Homo sapiens: one gene and its partners. The protein of the gene in region 3 interacts with the protein of the main gene of each other region in a pairwise test. Each region holds a gene or a part of one and is shown on either strand. Other genes may lie near its edges.

What was found.
Region 1: the proteins of SYT16 (region 3) and RER1 interact in binary tests that used the Homo sapiens proteins (3 or more experiments, as listed by UniProt).
Region 2: the proteins of SYT16 (region 3) and LDAF1 interact in binary tests that used the Homo sapiens proteins (3 or more experiments, as listed by UniProt).

The regions. Positions count from the first base shown.
Region 1 is NC_000001.11:2,401,719-2,405,936, reverse strand, and holds the end of RER1 (protein RER1), read right to left. Parts: intron 3,731-4,218; coding exon 3,595-3,730; intron 2,903-3,594; coding exon 2,813-2,902; 3' UTR 501-2,812; downstream 1-500. Other genes in the region: PEX10 (peroxisome biogenesis factor 10), read left to right, coding at 103-171. UniProt on the Homo sapiens protein: Involved in the retrieval of endoplasmic reticulum membrane proteins from the early Golgi compartment.
Region 2 is NC_000016.10:21,161,554-21,168,675, reverse strand, and holds part of LDAF1 (lipid droplet assembly factor 1), read right to left. Parts: intron 1,837-7,122; coding exon of another isoform or gene 1,765-1,836; intron 1-1,764. UniProt on the Homo sapiens protein: Plays an important role in the formation of lipid droplets (LD) which are storage organelles at the center of lipid and energy homeostasis. In association with BSCL2/seipin, defines the sites of LD formation in the endoplasmic reticulum.
Region 3 is NC_000014.9:62,074,700-62,081,821, reverse strand, and holds part of SYT16 (synaptotagmin-16), read right to left. Parts: intron 6,688-7,122; coding exon 6,431-6,687; intron 989-6,430; coding exon 548-988; intron 1-547. UniProt on the Homo sapiens protein: May be involved in the trafficking and exocytosis of secretory vesicles in non-neuronal tissues. Is Ca(2+)-independent.

The DNA of each region.
Region 1 (4,218 bases), on a different chromosome or scaffold from region 3:
GTGTGTCATGTGCAGAGAATGTGGACAGGAAAAGAAATGCCGATGGGGATGGGCATGGCCCAGTGGCCCCAGCTGCTGTGACCCCCTTTCTCCTCTCCGCAGGCGGAGTGTCCCCTCTGCCGGGAGAAGTTCCCTCCCCAGAAGCTCATCTACCTTCGGCACTACCGCTGAGCCGGCGCCCGGGTGGGCCTGGACACAGATGACCTCTACGGGAGTCTGAACGCCAAGATTTAGTCTCAGGATTAACCTTGCTTGCACAGAAGTTAGAACACTCTCAGTTTTTTGTCATGTAAGATACTAACCTAGCCACCCTGGGAGAGAACAGAAAGCTGTCCCTGGCTGCGCTTTCTCAGCCCTGGGAGGGGCGCCTGAACCCAGAACATTTCCCTAACCCCAACCTGGTAGGACTCAGCCACTTCTTCAGGAATTTCACTTATTTGGACGGGATTTTAGGTTTCCCTCCCTTCCCCAAACCATACAGTTGAGAAGTAATTCAGAAGTAGGCCAGAAGACACTTTATTCGTTTATATTGTGAGAAAACAGCCCCATCAGGCTTGTGTTAAGGCAATGGACTGAATGAGTGCGTGCTGGGTGGGGTGGGGCACGGAGGCTGGCGGGTTGCTTCAGCCAGTGCAGTGAGAACAGCAGCCCCACGGCCCCATGGGAGGCGGCGCTGCTCTCCCCGAGGGCGGCTGGGCAGAGCACATCCCCCAGGACTTGATGACCACACGGGGCAGAGAGAAACCAACCAAGGCCAGCACCTCCGTCGGAAGCATTTGGCACACACACCTTCAATACACGTCAAGGTCGCTTCCAGTTTTAGAAAACAGAAATCTGCATCTCAGCCTGAGACGCACAGAGAGGTCTCTTCCTGACCCAGACGCACTCACGAGCCAGGTCCTGGGGGTATGGGGGCTGCCAGGGGCGCCCGAGCCCTCTCCTGGGGGGCCTGCTGGGCAGGCGACCTGCTGACCCACGGTCACTGCTGTGTTCAGCCCCTCAGCTCGGCCCCAGCCTATTTCCCGCCTCCATTTGATGTTTCCAGGTTTTCAAAACTGCATTTAACCTGCGCCAGAGAGTTCACCGTAGGCATCTTTAATAAACTAACTCCAGCAAAATGTGGGTACGTTACTAACACAAGATGGAACTTGAGATTTCCTGAAGCGCAGTGTTAAAATGCCTCGAGGGCGTGTGCCACATTTCCCTGCTGACGTAAAACACCTGGCCAGCAGGACCGGCTTCCGGCAAAGACCCGCGCAAACCATGTCTTGCTGTTTGACTTACTTAGGAATGAGGATGACCCTGTATTCCTGGGTTAGTCAAGGTCAGCTTGCCAGAGACGGAGGAGGGCGGGGGGGCCGTGACCCTCTAGACTGGGAGGACCACCAGGAGAGGCACTGGGGGCTGCGGCCGGGTGGGCAGATGCCGCCGTGGCTCCATCCATCAGCACCCAGTCCTTTGCTTCACTGTGCTCTGGCCAAGCGCGTGCGACTTCCTGTCACACCTTAGGCCTGAGCGCTTATTAAGAAAACAGTATGAAAAATGACAAACACTCCTGTCCACAGTCTGAGAATCCCAAGTGTCTCAACACGGTACCAGAAGTACCACCTGGGAGCAGCACTGGCTATCTTGGGTCAGGGACACACAAGCTTGAACGTGGCCTCTTAGAGGAGCTCGATGTCAGATATGTAAACACTGGTACAAGAAAATCCAGACACTAAGCATTCACCGTGTCAATTCTGAGACAGGAAACACCGCCCAGAGTGAGGAGCCTGCGCAGCCCGGGGCCCAGGAGGAGAGGCCTTCACTCGCATGTCAGTGTCTCATCTGGGACCACAGCTGTGATGTTCTGCTGTGCAATATGGGTCACCTTTCGAAAAGGCCAAACAAAAGGTGGGCTTTCCTGTGTCCAGCGACTGCCATGTTTTAGGTAAAGACTTTAGTAAAGGTGGAGGTAAAATCACTTGGTAAAACGTTGAGAGTATTTCTTTTCTCGAATCAAAAACGCTGACATGCAAGTGGGTTCCGCCTCTCCCGCAGTGGGGGGCCGAGTGCTGAACCTACAAAGCCAGTCTGCTCCCTGCCAGCTTCGCTGCCCCTCATGGAGGGTTGCATGAGGACAGATTTAAATTAAAAACAAAACACTCTACGTATCAAAGAAATGTGTCAAAATAATCTCAAACAATTAAAATATAATATATATTTATAATTCCGGGCCCTCAAAAGCAATCATGGTAGTTAAGAACCAAGTTTTGAGTCATTAGGATAGAGGCCAACTTTAAACATCTCCAGTGAGATGGAATTAGGAAACTGGCATTAGAACCCCACACAGTTACTTGACAATCACCTTTAAAACGTTAAGTTCTTTCGGACACGCAGGAATCAGGCTAGATCATCCCTCGGGCTCTGTGGAGTGGCTGGCACCACCTGCGGCTGCTGGGGAAGGCGGCTGGCGGGGAGCGGCCCGTTCCTCCCTCGCAGGCCTTGCTCCTGCCTGCCCACCTGGCACAGCGGGGACCGGCCACTCGCCCTTGCTCCCATGGGCTCCACCCGCCTGGCTTCCCGCCTGCAGCTGACTAGAATTCCATCCGTGAGAAACACTTGAACGTCACTGAAAAAGAAATCCATGCGATTTGGTTTAAGCGCCAGTTTCTTCTAGAACCTGATATTTCAGTTACAAATCATTGAAGCTCCTTTTTAAAAAGAAAATTTGACTCCCTCGTAATCAACTACTTTATGTGAAGAAAAAAGGCATTGTTAACAATGGCTCAAAACTGTTCTTGCAACACGTGAGGCAGCCTCAGTCCCGCTTCTAGCTGGCGAAGGCCTTGCCGGCATCCTCCTTGCCTCTGTACCTTCTCTTCCCATGTGTGAACGGGATGTACCGGTACTTAATCATGTGCTGGGGAGAGAAACACAGACTCAGTTACTGCACAACCGCTCTCCAGTCAGTCACACTGTCCCCAAATCTGAGCGGCCAAAGGTCCCCCATCTTTTCTATACATCAGACAAGTGGAATCGGAGCCCCAGTGGCTTCCTGCGCCCACATCAACACAGCAAGACCTTCCACAGCCCACGAGGCCTAGGTTTGAAACCCCATCAATCCCAGTGCTTCGTGAGCCTCCCGTGGAGGAAGGGCAAGGGGGATGTGAGGTGGCCCAGGGCCCTCTCTGCAGCCAACACCCCGGGCACAGAGTGAGGCCCGCAGCACGAAGGCCACACCGTCAAGGGCACAGTCCGCAGTCTCGGCTAACTTCCCCCTAACACCCTCCTCCTCGGGCAGGCTGGCGCGGGGCACTGGGCACCCTAAGAGGAGCCACCGGGACACTGCACTCGCCGGGGCTCTCCCACCCGGCTTCCACAAAGTTTCCACCAAGAGCCCGCCCGCTCCCACAGCTGCGCTCCCCGTTTAGTTAGCCGGCCGTGCTGGGAACGGAGCAGTGTCCTCGTCACACACAAGACGGTGCCACTTAGCTCCACATTCACACCAGGCAGACTCTGCCACCACCCACCACAGCCCAGCACAGCTCCCCCAATGCTGCGGGTAACAGAACAGCGATTGCGGCCGGCGTGGCGGCAGCGCCTCTGCTTTACCTTGATTTGCCTCTTCATCGTGATACAGAAGAGCATGATGAAGTACATCACCAGAATCGGCCAGAACACCGGGACGTTGAAAGCGTCGAAGAAAGTACAGACCATAGCCACAAGGATGCCCTTGGTAGCCGCATGCCTTCAAGTGGGGAGAGAAGGTTAGCGCCGCATCTGCAGCCAGCACCGGGCACCTGCCGGCCGCCTCCAGCCTTGCAGCTGCACCGACCGTCCCCGCAAACAGAAGCATCCCTGTGGAAAGGAGGGGTCTACCCTGGGCACAGCAGCAGCAGGACCCTTTGCATGTAGCTCACAGACATGTACTGCCCTAACCACAGAAACATCCTTCTCTTACTCCCTTGAAAGACACAATTCTTCTTAAAACTACACAAAGTATAAAGCATCAGTACTGAGGCTGGGGGCCCCATGCCTGCTGGCTGGGCCTGCGATCTGGAGAGAAACCCAGGCTGTGTCTTGTGGACCATCCAGGGCCTTCACCTTGTCACTGTGGCATGGCCACCAGTGCTCCCTCCCGTCCCAGCACATGGCCAACAGATGCCACGGCCCTGGAGGCTCAGCTCTCCCTTCCTAGTCCAAGCTTCTGGTGGCTTCCAGGGCCCCTGATCTTTC
Region 2 (7,122 bases), on a different chromosome or scaffold from region 3:
AAAATCATAATTATAATATTGTATAATTATATTAGATATATTATACTAATATTAGTTATCAATATTCATATAGCATTATTATATATTATATAAATATATTATATTTATATATGTATATAATTATAATATGTATTATATTATTTATATATTATTTATTATAATTATAATTATTAAAAGCATTATTATTAAAAGCATTATTAAGCATTAAAAGCTAATCACTTGTCTATTAGTAAGCATTAAAAGCTAATCACTTGTCTATTCACTTGTCTATTAAAAGCTAAGCTCAGCATTAAAAGCTAATCACTTGTCTAGAGTCGCACAGCCTCCAAGTGGCAAAATCTCAGCATTAAAAGCTAAGGCCTGGCCAGCATGGTGGCTCATACCTGTAATCCCAGCACTTTGGGAGGTGGAGGCAGGCGGGTCACCTGAGGTCAGGAGTTCAAGAACAGCCTGGCTAACATGGTGAAACCCTGTCTCTTTTAAACATACAAAAATCAGCCAGGCATGGTGGCGCGTGCTGGTAGTCCCAGCTACTAGGGAGGCTGAGGCACGAGAATCGTTTGAGCCTGGAAGGCGGAGGTTGCAGTGAGCCAAGATGGCGCCATTGCACTCCAGCCTGGATGACAGAGCAAGTCTCCTTTTCTTTTCTTTCTTTCTTTTTTTTTTTTTGAGATGGAGTTTTGCTCTTGTCGCCCAGGCTGGAGTGCAATGGCAAGATCTCGGCTCACTGCAACCTCCGCCTCCCGGGTTCAAGCCATTCTCCCGCCTCAGCCTCCCGAGTAGCTGGGATTACGGGCGCCCCCACCACGCCCAGCTAAGTTTTGTATTTTTAGTAGAGACAGGGTTTCACTATATTGTCCAGGCTGGTCTCGAATTCCTGACCTCAGGCGATCCACCCGCCTTGGCCTCCCAAAGTGCTGAGATTACAGGCGTGGGATACCGCGCCCCACCGCAAGTCTCCTTTTCAAAAAAAAAAAAACAAACCTAAGGTCTTGGACTCAGAATGTCCAATGCTTGCAACAGCTGCCACCACATCAAGTAAAAATGCTTTTATGTCATCAACCTGGTTACCATAGTTGGCCACAGCCTGTGACTAATGCAAGTTTATGTTGTGTTAATAGTTTATTTTCCTTCACCGGGCAAAAAGGAATTTTCGATCTGACTCAATGGAGGGAGACTGCTTTAACGCAGAGCTGGCCATAGGCAAATCCGCAAAGATGGGTTTCCCCCTCTCCTCCTTAGGCTCCACGCCTTCTCTCTCCTCAGTACTGGTATTCTAGATCCTGTTCACTTGAAAGGAACCATTATTCCAGAACCTCCTTCCATCATAACTGGTCCTTCCTGAGCCTCATCCCTACGGCCTTGCAGGCCAACAGATGAAAAGAAGACATAATTCAGGTCCCCAAAACACATGTGCCTCCTAGGAAGAAGAGTTTACCCAAGTGGTTTAAACAGTGGGATTTTCAGGGCGAGTTGGAAGGCAGGAGGGGTTTGTGGTTCATGCTGAAGGAACTAAAGTGCAAGCTGCACCCTGCTTAAATAAAAGAGGCCATGCCAAGAAGCCACAGCCATTGGTCTTGGGCTTCAGCGTGGTCTCCTAAGGATTACTCTCGAGGCATGGCCAATTTCACTCCCTGCCAGGCCACAGGACGGCATAATGCCCGCTGACCTCACTGCCTCCTGCTACCCCACCATTCTGACAAAAGCCACCAAAGAGCTTGCTATTCCGCTTCTCTAGCCAGAGATGACTGTAGCAGGAATCACCTTGGAGCCAGCACTGCCCAGCCTGGACACTCCATCATCAGAGTCCAGTGAGATCCTGCTGTGTTGGGGCAGCTGAAAGAGAAAGAGAGGCGGAGGAGCCGTGGGAGTCACCACACAGAATGTGGGCTGGTCCCTTGCGCTGTCTCAGGTCCTGACTTCTTTCCAGTTCGAATCCACATGCATCCTTATTTGATGCTCCCTGTGTCACCTGATCTTTACAATCCAAAGAACCACAGTGGGGAGAGCAGATGGGCTCTCCAGGAAAGGGAGGCAGCAGTACACCCGTGAGTATGCTGCGCCAGCGAGGGAAGGGCTGTGCAGCGGAAGGAACTTGTGAGGCTGGGACACCAGGACACTGGGCTTGCTAGCTTATCCCCGGGCTGTCCATCACAGGCCACCTGCGCCATTCAGCACTTGAAATGCTCCTCCTGTGACTGATGGCCTGGATTTCCAATTTAATTTAATTTAAATTTTAAAGCTGAGACTTGATTCAGTTGTTGGAAAAATTTTAAGTATGTTTCCAATAGGTTGGGTATGTGAATCTATTTCGCTGAATTGTAAGTTTTATAAAATCTGAATAGAGATTAAATATTTCCAATGAAAATTTGGCATCAGAATTGAGATGTGCTTTAAGTGTAAGAAAAAAAAATGCAAAATATCTCATTAATACTTTTTTATATTACCTGTTGAAATTATAGTGTTTTGGATATATTGTGTTAAATTGAGAATATATTATTAAAATTAATCTCTGGCTGGGCACGGTGGCTCACACCTGTAATCCCAGCACTTTGGGAGGCTGAGGTGGGCAGATTACTTAAGATCTGGAGCTTAAGACCAGCCTGGTCAACATGGTGAAACCCCGTCTCTAGTAAAAATACAAAAAAATTAGTCAGGCAGAGTGGTGCGTGCCTGTAATCCTAGCTACTTGGGAGGCTGAGGCGGGAGAATCACTTGAACCCGGGAGTCAGAGGTTGCAGTGAGCCGAGATCACGCCACTGTACTCCAGCCTGGGCGACAGAGCGAGACTCCATCTCAAGATAAATAAATAAATAAAATTAATCTCATTTGTTTCTTTTTGTTTTTAATGTAATTATTAAAAAACTTAAAATTATATATGTGGCTCACATAATATTTCTGCTAGACAGCACTCATTTAAATTTCATCTGGGAAAAAAAAAACAGGGAACAAACTGCTGTCATTTGAGCAGAACTATGACATGATTAAAGGAATGATTTAAGAAATATGAACCTAGCAATCATGTGCAAGAGGCAGGTAGAAAGATTTGCAGGAAATCAGGCAAGATATACTGTGGTCAAGTCCAGGCTGATGGCAGAGAGGGAAGAGAAGGGGGAGGGGTAGATGGGTATGAAAGTGGAATGACAAAAGAAGGAATACACAGGACTTAGGGACTGTATGGCACAGGGATATAAAAGGAAACAGGCAAGACTGTTCCACTTCAGTCCTTAAGGAATCCACCTTTTTCTTAGCCTTTTGTTTTTTTGAGATGGAATCTCACTCTATTGCCCAGGCTAGAGTGCAATGGCATGATCTCGGCTCACTGCAACTTCCGCTTCCCAGGTTCAGGCGATTTCCAGCTAATATTTATATTTTTTAGTAGAGATGGGGTTTCACCATGTTGGCCAGGCTAGTCTCGAACTCCTGACCTCAAGTGATCTGCCCGCCTCGGCCTCCCGAAGTGCTAGGATTATAAGCATCAGCCACCATGCCCCGCCATTCTTAGTCTTTTCCGAGTCTGGGCTCTATAATCAAAGAGAAAGTCATTTAGATATGCAAAGAGACCAAGATTCAGATGATTAAACCCAGAAATTGTCTTCTCCCAGGAAGTACAGCTGAGCTCCAGCCAGTCTGTCCCAGGAGGGGAGGACACGATTCAACCACACCTAATAATAACAGAGAACATTCATTAAACACTCAGGTGCTGGGCACTGCTTTAAGCACCTCTCGTATTATTTCCTCATTTATTTCTTCCTACAATGCTACGAGGTAGGTAAAAAAGAACGACCTAACACTATTTAAACTCAGGGGGGTAGAACGTAGCAATTAACATTTCATTCTCATGGCAACAGAGGGGGATGCAATGGAAAGATGGAAAGTGGGAGAGGTTATTATTCAGTAACATGCACTGTGATTTTCCATCACCAGCCTGGAGGTAGACACAGGTTACCCAATCTAGGCTCTGTAAGCACAGTGCAGCACTGCAGAGCCCAGGAAGGCCAGGCTGAGACAGACTGACAACATTATGCGCCACCCTCTGTGCTAAAGCTTCAAACAGCATCTCAGATAATCTTCATAACAAACCTCTGAGCCTGACATTGCTCATTTTAGAAAAGAGGAGATGGCAGCTGGGCATGGTGGCTCACTTCTGTAATCCCAGCACTTCAGGAGGCCAAGGCAGGAGGACTGCTTGAGGCCAAGAGTTTGAGACCAGCCTGGGCAACACAGTGAAAGATGCTGTCTCTCCAAAAAATAAAATAAAACATTAGCTGAGTATGCTGGTGTGCACCTGTAGTCCCAGCTACTCAGGAGGCTGAGGCTGGAGGTGTTGCTTGAGACCAGAAGTTCGAGGCTACAGTAAGCCATGATCACACCACTATACTCCAGCCTGGAAGACAGAGTGAGACTCTGTCTCAATAAAAAATAAATAAAAAATTTTAAAAAAGGAGATGGAAATTCAGTGAGCCTAAGTGACTTGCCCAAGGTCAGACAAAGGCGGTTGGCTTCTAAACTAGGGACAAAGTGGCCAGTATTTGAGAACATGAAGACTGAAACTTGGATGATTCAGGAGCCAGGCAAATTCCCTGGTATCAGAATGCAAAAAACAATCAATGATTCATTATCTCTTCCTAACAGGAGAAAGACGAAGGGTCAGGACCATTTACAACCACTGGTGGCCAGGTGCGGTGGCTCACGCCTATAATCCCAGCACTTTGGGAGGCCGAAGTGGGTGGATTGCCTGAGGTCAGGAGTTGGAGATCAGCGTGGCCAAAATGGTGAGAAACCCCGTCTCTACTAAAAATACAAAAACAAACAAACAAAAAAGGCAGGTGAACGTGACTATTAACTAAGTTCAGACAGGGCCAGGGTGAATGCCTAGTGCAGTGCTTGGCATACAGTCAGTGCCAAGAAATATGCAGTCAATCCTTATTACTCATGATTCCATATTTGTAAATTTGCCTCCTCACTGAAATTTATTTGTAACCTCAAAATGAATACTGGCAGTGCTTTTTGTTTTGTTTTGTTTTGTCTGAGATAGAGTCTTGCTCTGTCACCCAGGCTGGAGTACAGTGGTGTGATCTTGGCTCCCTTCAACCTTCACCTCCTGGGTTCAAGCGATTCTCGTGCCTCAGCCTCCCAAGAGGCTAGGATTACAGGCGCACACCACCACACCCAGCTAATTTTTGTATTTTTCGTAGAGAAGGGGTTTCATCATGTTGGCCAGGCTGGTCTTGAACTTCTGGCTCAAGGGATCCACCCGCCTCGGCCTCCCAAAGTACTAGGATTACAGGTGTGAGCTACCACGCCTGGCCTGCAGTGCTTTTGAGGTCATTAGTGGACACGTCCACAACAGCAAAAAGTGGAGTCACCTGCCACGTACATTCCCAGCTGAGGTCAAGCAAGGTGACACCGAGCCTTCCTGTTTCATCCTTTAAACAAGTGTCACTGTGGTCTATTTAGTGCCACGTTTATGCTTTAGTTTGGTGATTTTACTGTTGAAAATGGTCCCCAAGTGTAGTGCTGAAGTGTTCTCTAGCGTTCCTAACCATGAGAAGGCTGTGATGTGCCTTATGCAGAAAATACATGTGTGTGATTAGCTTTGTTTAAGACATGAGTCATAGTACTGTTGTTGGCCCTGAGTTCAACGTTAATGATCAACAATATATATTAACATGTCTTTAAACAGAAATACACATAAAACGAGGTTATGTACTGATCAGCTGACAAAAATGTTGTGAACAGGAGGCTCACAGCAACTGAATCCTGTATTTCCCCTAGGAGCGATGGTTTGGTATGTGCTAATTCAGTGTCTGCAGTAACTTTATAGAACGTAACTACCATGGTTAATGAGAATCAGCTGTAAATGTGGAACAGGCAGGAGGACCCTTCTTACTGAGCTAACTTTTAATAACAAGAGTCCCCGCCAGCTGGCGAGAAAGCTGCTTGTCCAATTTAAAAATAGCTTGGTAAATCCACAAAGAGTGCCAAATAAATTCTGGAGCAAGTCCAGAATTTATTGTTGTAGATTGCAAACAAGCATCTCTTCGAGTAGACCCGCTGTGCTATCCAATACAAAAAAAAATACACCACAAAATAGTTCATTTTGTTACATATACATATGTATTTTTATAGGTATATTGCATAGAAAAAAGGTCTAGAATGACATACAAAATGTTAACAGTATTATCTCTGAAAGCTGTTTTCTTTTCCCTGACAAAATGCTGAAAGACATATAGAAGAAAGCAATAAGGATAAATATGCAAGAAAACATAACGCTATCTGAAGTCTCATTGCCACTGAGTGGCCACTGAATACCTAAAAAGTGGCTAACTCGAATTGAAATGTGCTAGAAGTGTAAAATATGCGCACGGGGGGTTTTGAAGAGGGAGTTCAAAAAAGAAGGTACAATGTTTCAAGAATCTTTTTTCATTAATAATTTTGTATAAATGATTACATGTTGAAATATTTTTGATATCTTAGGTTGAATAAAAACATTATTAAAAATAATTTTTTTTTTTTGGAGACGGAATCTCGCTCTGTCGCCCAGGCTGGAGTGCGGTGGCACAATCTCAGCTCACTGCAACCTCCGCCTCCTGGGTTCAAGTGATTCTCCTGCCTCAGCCTCCCGAGTAGCTGGGACTACAGGCCTTACCACCACACCTGCTCATTTTGGTAATTTTAGTAGAGATGGGGTTTTACCATGTTCGCCAGGCTGATCTCGAACTTCTGATCTCAAGTGATCCACCCACCTCAGCCTCCCAAAGTGCTAGGATCACAGGCGGGAGCCACTATGCCCAGCCAAAATTAATTTTACCTATTTCTTTTTACTTCTTACATGTGGCTACTAGAAAAATTCTAAATTACATACGTGACTCACATCATATTTCTATCGGACCTGGATTCCTAGTGGAACAATGAACTCAAATCTTGAAGTAGGCTTTTGTCTCTCATTTTCAGGGTAACAGATAGGGCAAAATTCACAACAAAACCAAACAAAACCAAAAAAAGGATGATATCTGTTGCACAGACTTCTTTATCCAGCTAAAGAATTGCATTTGCCATTAGTGGCAAATGACTCAATGTTGGCTTAAGGGATGTAATTGGAAGTATTGTGTGCGACTC
Region 3 (7,122 bases):
CAGCAGTAGTGAGCTGCCCATCCTGTAGGCATGTAAATTATGACACCTTTCCTTGAAACCCTGTGGCAAGCAGGGAAATGGGGTATGAGGGAAGACGGTAGTAACACAAATGAAAGGTTTCAGAAGCAGCTGAAGTTCTGGGCTGCTCTCTCAGTCTGCCCCAGCATACCCGTTAAGAACCTTGCCCAGAAAGTCCCATCTCTGAGATTCATCATGATGCAGATTGGGGGCAGGAGGAGTAGGATCAGTTATCCACAATCCAGAGGGCCAAGCCACCTTCCCTGTTTTTCTCCATGCCCTCTACCACACTGCTGCTATTTTGTCCTAAAATGGACAGGGCATTTATCCATCAGGTTATCAGGAAGACAGGCATGAAAGACCCATTGTACCATGAAGTGCAAATCATGGCTTACAAGGGTGAGGAGAGCCAAATGGAAAATTAAATTAAAGTCTCTGAATTCACAGACTGAACGTACTAAATCAAGGGCTGACAATCCCAGGTCTTCGAACACACCACATCATTAGCAGCACCATTTAACATACTCACGCTTATATTACTTCTTGGCTCCAGAACCAGAGTCACTTTCATTTCCCCTTCTGGGTGCAGGTGGCTGAGATAGAATAGTTTCTCTCCCATCATTCTCTCTCGGGTCATCTTCCGGGCAGCGTACAGGCGGAAGCGGACAGCACAGGCAGCCACATCTCTGGGCTCCAGCTTGGCAAAGGTGACCTTCTCCCTGAAGACGGGGTTGGGCCCTCTCTGTATGTTCGTCCTGCCCCTGTGTTTCTTACCAGGCAGCAGCACTACATGAACTTGCCAGGAGTTGACACCACTTCGGTCCTTATCTGGGAGGCCCTGTGCCCTCACAATGGTCACTGTGAGCTTCTGGCTGGCGGCTCTATATTCAAAGATGACATCTAGGTCACCACACTTTGAGATGGGCTCTGAGACCCCGGATGGCACCTGCAAATTGGTCCTGTCCTGTTCCTGTTGCAGGCAGAGGAAACAATTAGAAATGGAAATGATGATACCCAATTACATTTTGGCCAGTTGGTGCCCCTTTGTGCTCCTTCAGAATCCCTGCTTTCTAACTGCCAGTGTATTCCCTCTATATCAGATAGGTCTGTTTACTGGTCTATCGCTGCATTAAACTGTGAATTCTTTGACGGCAAAGTGCCTAGCATATGGTGCGCCTTCGTGAATGTTTTTGGAATGGATAACTAAAGCTTTTATATTTTTGCAAAGTGTTTTCATATATACTGCCTCTCAAAAAGCACAATTGCCCAGGATCATTGAAACCAACTGAGATGCTAAATCTAAAATTAAGTCAACAGGCAATTGTCCATAGGCAACTTTTCCTTGTGTCCCTAAATACAGATGGTTGAGCCTGAGCCTGTTCTCCACAGGCAAGAGCTTTCTACAGACAAGAATTTTGATGGGAGTCCCAGGAAGGTGATGCTTCAGTATATTTTCAATCTAAGTGGGAGAAAAGGTTTAGGGCTGAGCTTCTCAAACTTTAATGTAGACCTAAATCATCTGAGGATTCTGATTCAGTAGGTCTGGAGTGGAGCTTGAGATCCTGCCATTTCTGGGACAGGCACAAGGGATGTTGACGCTGCTAGCCTCGGCTCACACTTTGAGCAGCAAGGATTTAGGAGGACACCTCCACAGCCCTTTAGTAAACAGCAACACTGAGCCTGGAGCCAGAACACCTAAATTGAAATCATAACTCTACCACTGACTAGCTTTTTTACCCTGGCCAAATAGACCAGCCTCTCGGTAGTCTAGCTTAAAAATGCACATTAATGTGCCTACTTGCTGGTGTGTTGTTGTGAGGTTTTCATTGATATGAAAATACCTGGCTTAGACCAGACTGCATAAATATCTATTCCCACCACTGGACTGGTGCTACCTATTCTCAAACACACATCCCTCTTTATGGAATGTCACCCTTGGGTAGCAATTTACATGCAGCCACTCAGATCTGATGACCTTACTGGGAAAACTGAGCTAGGCTGCATTTATTATAATGAACCACCCCACTAACAAATTATAAATAATGTCAATAATAATTCTATTTTCCTCTGAAGGCATGATCCTTACCTGTAACTAAACTTTGATCTGATTCTTATTGCAAACCAGTTCTTATTTATGCAATTGAACACCAGAACTTGCTAATTTAGAGATCTCGTTTCAAATTATAATACAATGCCTCAAAATGTGCATCCATCAATGAAACTTTCCCACATAGTCTGGGTGAAAGTTCATGGTTCTCTGGGTTCGTATTTCCTTAGGAAGCCCAGGCCTACCACTTACTAGCTCTATGACACTGGGCAAGTCATTTAATCCTTTCCATGTTCTATTTTCCTCAACTGTAAAATGGAGATGGTACCTTCTGTGTAGGGATGTTGTAAAAAGTAGAGGACTTGACAGACAGTAGACATCTAATAAATATCCTTTTCTTTTAAGATTCAAATTAGCCTGCAAGAAAATTTAGATTTCTTGTAAAATAAGTGAAGCTTCTTATATCCTTTCCTGTGAGCATGCAATCATGCGTGAGTGTTTCTATTCAGAGGTACTTAGTTTCAAGTGATAAAAGTGGTTGCTATAGAGACTTTTGAATACAACTGACTAGTGTATATATATTAGAAGCAAGTCTCCAAGGATTTAGGCCAACTCAAAAATCAAGTCAGAATCTTCTCTCAAACTCCCTTGTCTCTTCCTAAAACTCCCATCTATTTTAGCCTACTCTTGATCATCTCTGTATTGCATTTCTGACCATAAGTAATAATAGCTAACATCTACTAAACTATTTCTTATGCCAAATACCATATCAAATCCTTTACAGACTATAAAAATTGGCTCTTAAACACTTCAGATCTTCTTGGCCTTAACTCATGTTCCATCTTCCCCTAAGGCACAGCCTATATGGGCTCTAAGTAGTTTCAGCCTGGAACTACTCAATAAAGTCTTACCTTCTACCCACACAATATAATTCTCATTTCTTATCATTGGTCTCTCTGTCGACCGCCAAGGCTTAGACAGCTGCAGAACCCTGCTTGACACCAATATATGTGAAGTCTACTTTTTGCCCCGTAGTCAGTTGTCCTATCAGTTCATACAGCTTCTTGGAGTGTGATCACACAAGATCAGGCAATTAGCCATACTGAGTGGTGGCCAATTCAACTGTGTATTCTCACACTTGACCTCCCTTCTTCCCTGCCTTACTTCCCTTGTCTCGCACTTTTGTTCCCTGGGGTTGCACTCCCAAAGCAGGGAACAAAGCCTTTACGTAGGCTCTGCTTTTTTGAGGAACCCAACTAAGAAACATTATCTTTTTGAATATTTACATCAATGCAATGAGGTAGGTATTTTAATATCTTCATTTTATGGAGGACGAAACTCAAGCTTAGAAAGACTAAATAACTAACACGCTCTCTCCCCCCAAGCCCAGATCAAATTCCCAGACAAGATTATCCAGGACTCATGCCCTGGCAGTTTGAGTCCCAGGCCTGCCTTAACTCGTATCCAATACTCAAAATTTCAAACCTTATTTTGAAACATACAGTCTCCTTTCTTCTTCCCCAAACCTTTAGGCATAACTATTTCTACATATAGACATATGTGTGTGTGTGTGTGTGTGTGTGTTTATATATATATATATAGAGAGAGAGAGAGAGAGCGAGAGAGCACTAGAGAGAGAGAGAGAGAGAGCAAGCGCACAAGATGAAGGGGGAGAAGACGGAAGGTGGGGGTTGGAATCACACTCTCTGTGGTTTTCACATCCTTTGAGGCCCCTGCTCTTAATGTTAGTTAATAGCTCTTAGTTTTGTCAACTTCAATGCCAAGGTAAAAATATTTTAGTGAATGAGGAGCTCTCTCCACTTATGTATCAGGCTGTCTCTTCGGATAAATGCTCACTCCACCTGCAGGTTTCTAAGAGAGTCCTGGGTAGAGCTCCTGACTGTCCTAAGAACTCCTCTGAATAAACAGATCCTGCCAATGGCTGGGCTTTGGATAGGCCAATTCAAGCTGTGGCCCATGAAAACTGGGCTTTGTAGCCCCTCCCTGGGTTGATTTGAGAAAAAGATTTGTGAATGCTGGTATTTTCATAGCAATTAATTATTTCAACACACTTTACCTCTCACCAGGCAACTGAAGGAGCTCCTCACTTGGGTACTGTTAATACCACTAATCCATCTGACCTTCCTGCAAGGTAAAAATCTCTTCATTCTTATCCCCATTTGGCAGATTTTAATTAACTTCTCAAGGCCAACCAATTAATCAGTGGAAAGCAGAGATGAAAAGTGGGACACCTGTCTCCCTGTGTGCTCAAAATCACCAGCCACACTCCCATTGTCTTTCCTGCCAAGCCCTGGGTCTGCAGGAAAAAGCCAAAGGCCTTCGCCAGCAGAGAAGAGCAGAGCTCGAAAATCCATCAGCCTAACAGGTAGTCACACTGCACGACCAGTTTCCTGCTGAGACAAAATAAATGATTCCTTGAGCTCCAATATCCTGGGCTTTTCCTTAAGATGAGAATACTTGTGTCAAATTGTCAAAACCCAGGTAGGTTTAAAGATTTTCTGTCAAATTGAAAGCCTTTCTGTTTTAGTAAGATAGTGTTGATGTCATCTGTGTGGCCTAAAGTAAACAGGCCTACAATATGTTCCTGATGCCAGATACACAGGGGAAGACAGAGTTCTCAATACAGCTAAGAGGCAAATAAATCATTTCTTAAAAGGCAAGCTAAGCCTGCAAAGCAGGCAGTTACGGGAACTGCCTCCGAGTTGGATTTGAGGTTCTACTGTAGGAGCACCAAATTACAGTTTTTTCTCAAAATAGATAGGAGGTTGAATGGAGCACACAGAGATGTCTGGGTATTTTTGGAGTCTGAGAACATTTAGTACCCTCAATACCGAGTCTTCTATTAAAGCTCCAGCAGGCAGGTAAATGGGAGGTGACCTGGAGAAGTCACTTCCAAGCCTCATGGCACAATCACCAAGGAGACAGAGTATCAATAGGCAGGCAAATCATTTGGTCTGTTTTGTTTTTGGGAGAGAGATTCAAAATATTTTTTAAGAGTTAGTGTGTGGGATTTGATACGGCTTGGTAGTAAACTAACGGGTAAGCAGAGTTTTTTCTTTTTTTAAACAAAATGTATAAAGTTAATGGCTTTGGGTGCCTCCATATGAAGGGCTGCTTTTTAACAAGCCACAAACCACATATGTGAGCTACCATTTCTGGTCCTCAGCAGAGACATCTACACAGGGGCACAGATGTGTATGCATACCCCTCCTTAGATACTACCTACACACGCCAACATGTTAGCAGTTAAGGCTTGGAAACAGGGTTTTCTGTGATTCCTTTTTTTTTTTTTACCTTGAGCATTTAGCGTGTGTGACACTCCAAGTCCTAATAAGAGATGCATCCTGTTTATTTTCTCAAATGGATGCTAATAAAATCCATTCACCTCTCTCCTTCTTCCCCCATCCCTGCAAATTATATTAAAGGTTTATATATGTATATGACTTATTTCATCAAAATTAATTTCAAATTAGGTATTAAACACCATTCCTTAATGCCTTCCAATGTCACAGAATCATGATAGGAGGGATCTATCTAATGGAAAAATAACCGTAAGGGCCAGTAAAAGGAAACAATTTGGTAAAATCCTTATCACAGTGCCTGGCATATATTAACTGCTCAATAAATGGTAGCTACTACCATCATCACCTCCAGCCATATCTCTGGATTGATTGTTACATTTATTCTGGACTAAGCTTTACTTGAAAAAGAACTTTGGAAGAAGTATCTTTTATCAGAGATTTACTACAAAACCAATGTCAATGGCCAGAGGGGCATTACTGATTAATGCTGTCTCCTAGGCACAAAATATATTTTGTATATATTCACAGTGCAAGATCTGCATCATTACACCTTGTATAATTTCACTTGGAAGGCCATTTCATTTTAGTTCAATTTTCAAATAATTTTCATATCAAATAATCGTAACTTGAGATTTGGGCTAAATAAAAATAGACTCCACTTAATTGAAACCATGAAGTAAATAAACCAGTCCCTCTAAAGAACTGAAAATTCCATTATTTAAAATTAAGTCTATAAAAAGCCTTTATATAAAAGAAAAGCCTGGCTGTTCCTGGATCCATTCTGCCACCATTCTTATTTTTTTTTCTTTTTTTCTTTTTTTTTTTTTTTACCGTTCATCCTTTTTTTTCCATTTTGAGAGAAATTTATGACTCTTTTATTGACATGCATGGGATTTTGGTCATCTGGACAAAAATTTATTGCAGATAAAAGTAATGCTTCCTTTCTGGAATTTTTTTTTTTTTTTAGAGAGATGAGAAAGGAGAGTGGAAAGAGGGGAAGGGGAAAGGGAACCAATGAAAGAATGAAAAACAAATAACTTGCCTCTGGACTCCACATGGAGGAGCTGTCAGTGGCATAGGAATCTTCAAATCCCCGGCTATTAAAAGCTGTCTCCATCTCCAAGCTGCCCTCTGTGGATTGGCGCCTGAGGCTTTGGACCACACTGGACTCTTGGTGAGATGTGCCGTGGTGTTTGGCATCCCCTCTTTCACATGGGGACTGTGAGTGAGCAGGGATGTGGTCATCTTCACCGTAGGAGAGATTCTCAGAATAACGCCGTTGGCTGGCTCCATCCAAATCTAAATTTGCAATAAGAAAACCATTTCAAATGCATTATTTTTAACACCTTTTTACCTAGAGAAATTGAGTAATTGCAGTCACAACAATCAAGATTGCAGAAACAGAACCCATACCAATAATACCTGCAGAAACATAATTCTATCCATACAGTGAAGAAACTTGATCCATAAAATGAAAAAGAACATTATCTCATTATGTGGCGTATCAGAAGGCTTAATACTTTTTAAATATGAGTGTAGAGAATATATATTTATGTCAAAAGGATAAAATCGACACAGCATTTTGCTGGAGCTAATGACCACAAGACTTCTGCAATGGATCTAAAAGCAAAAAGAGTCATCTAATATGGAGATCGTATGGTCTCCCGACTCTACCATGCTTCCTTTCCTCTTCAGTGTTTACCACATTACCCTCTGCTCAAAAAGCTTTGGTGA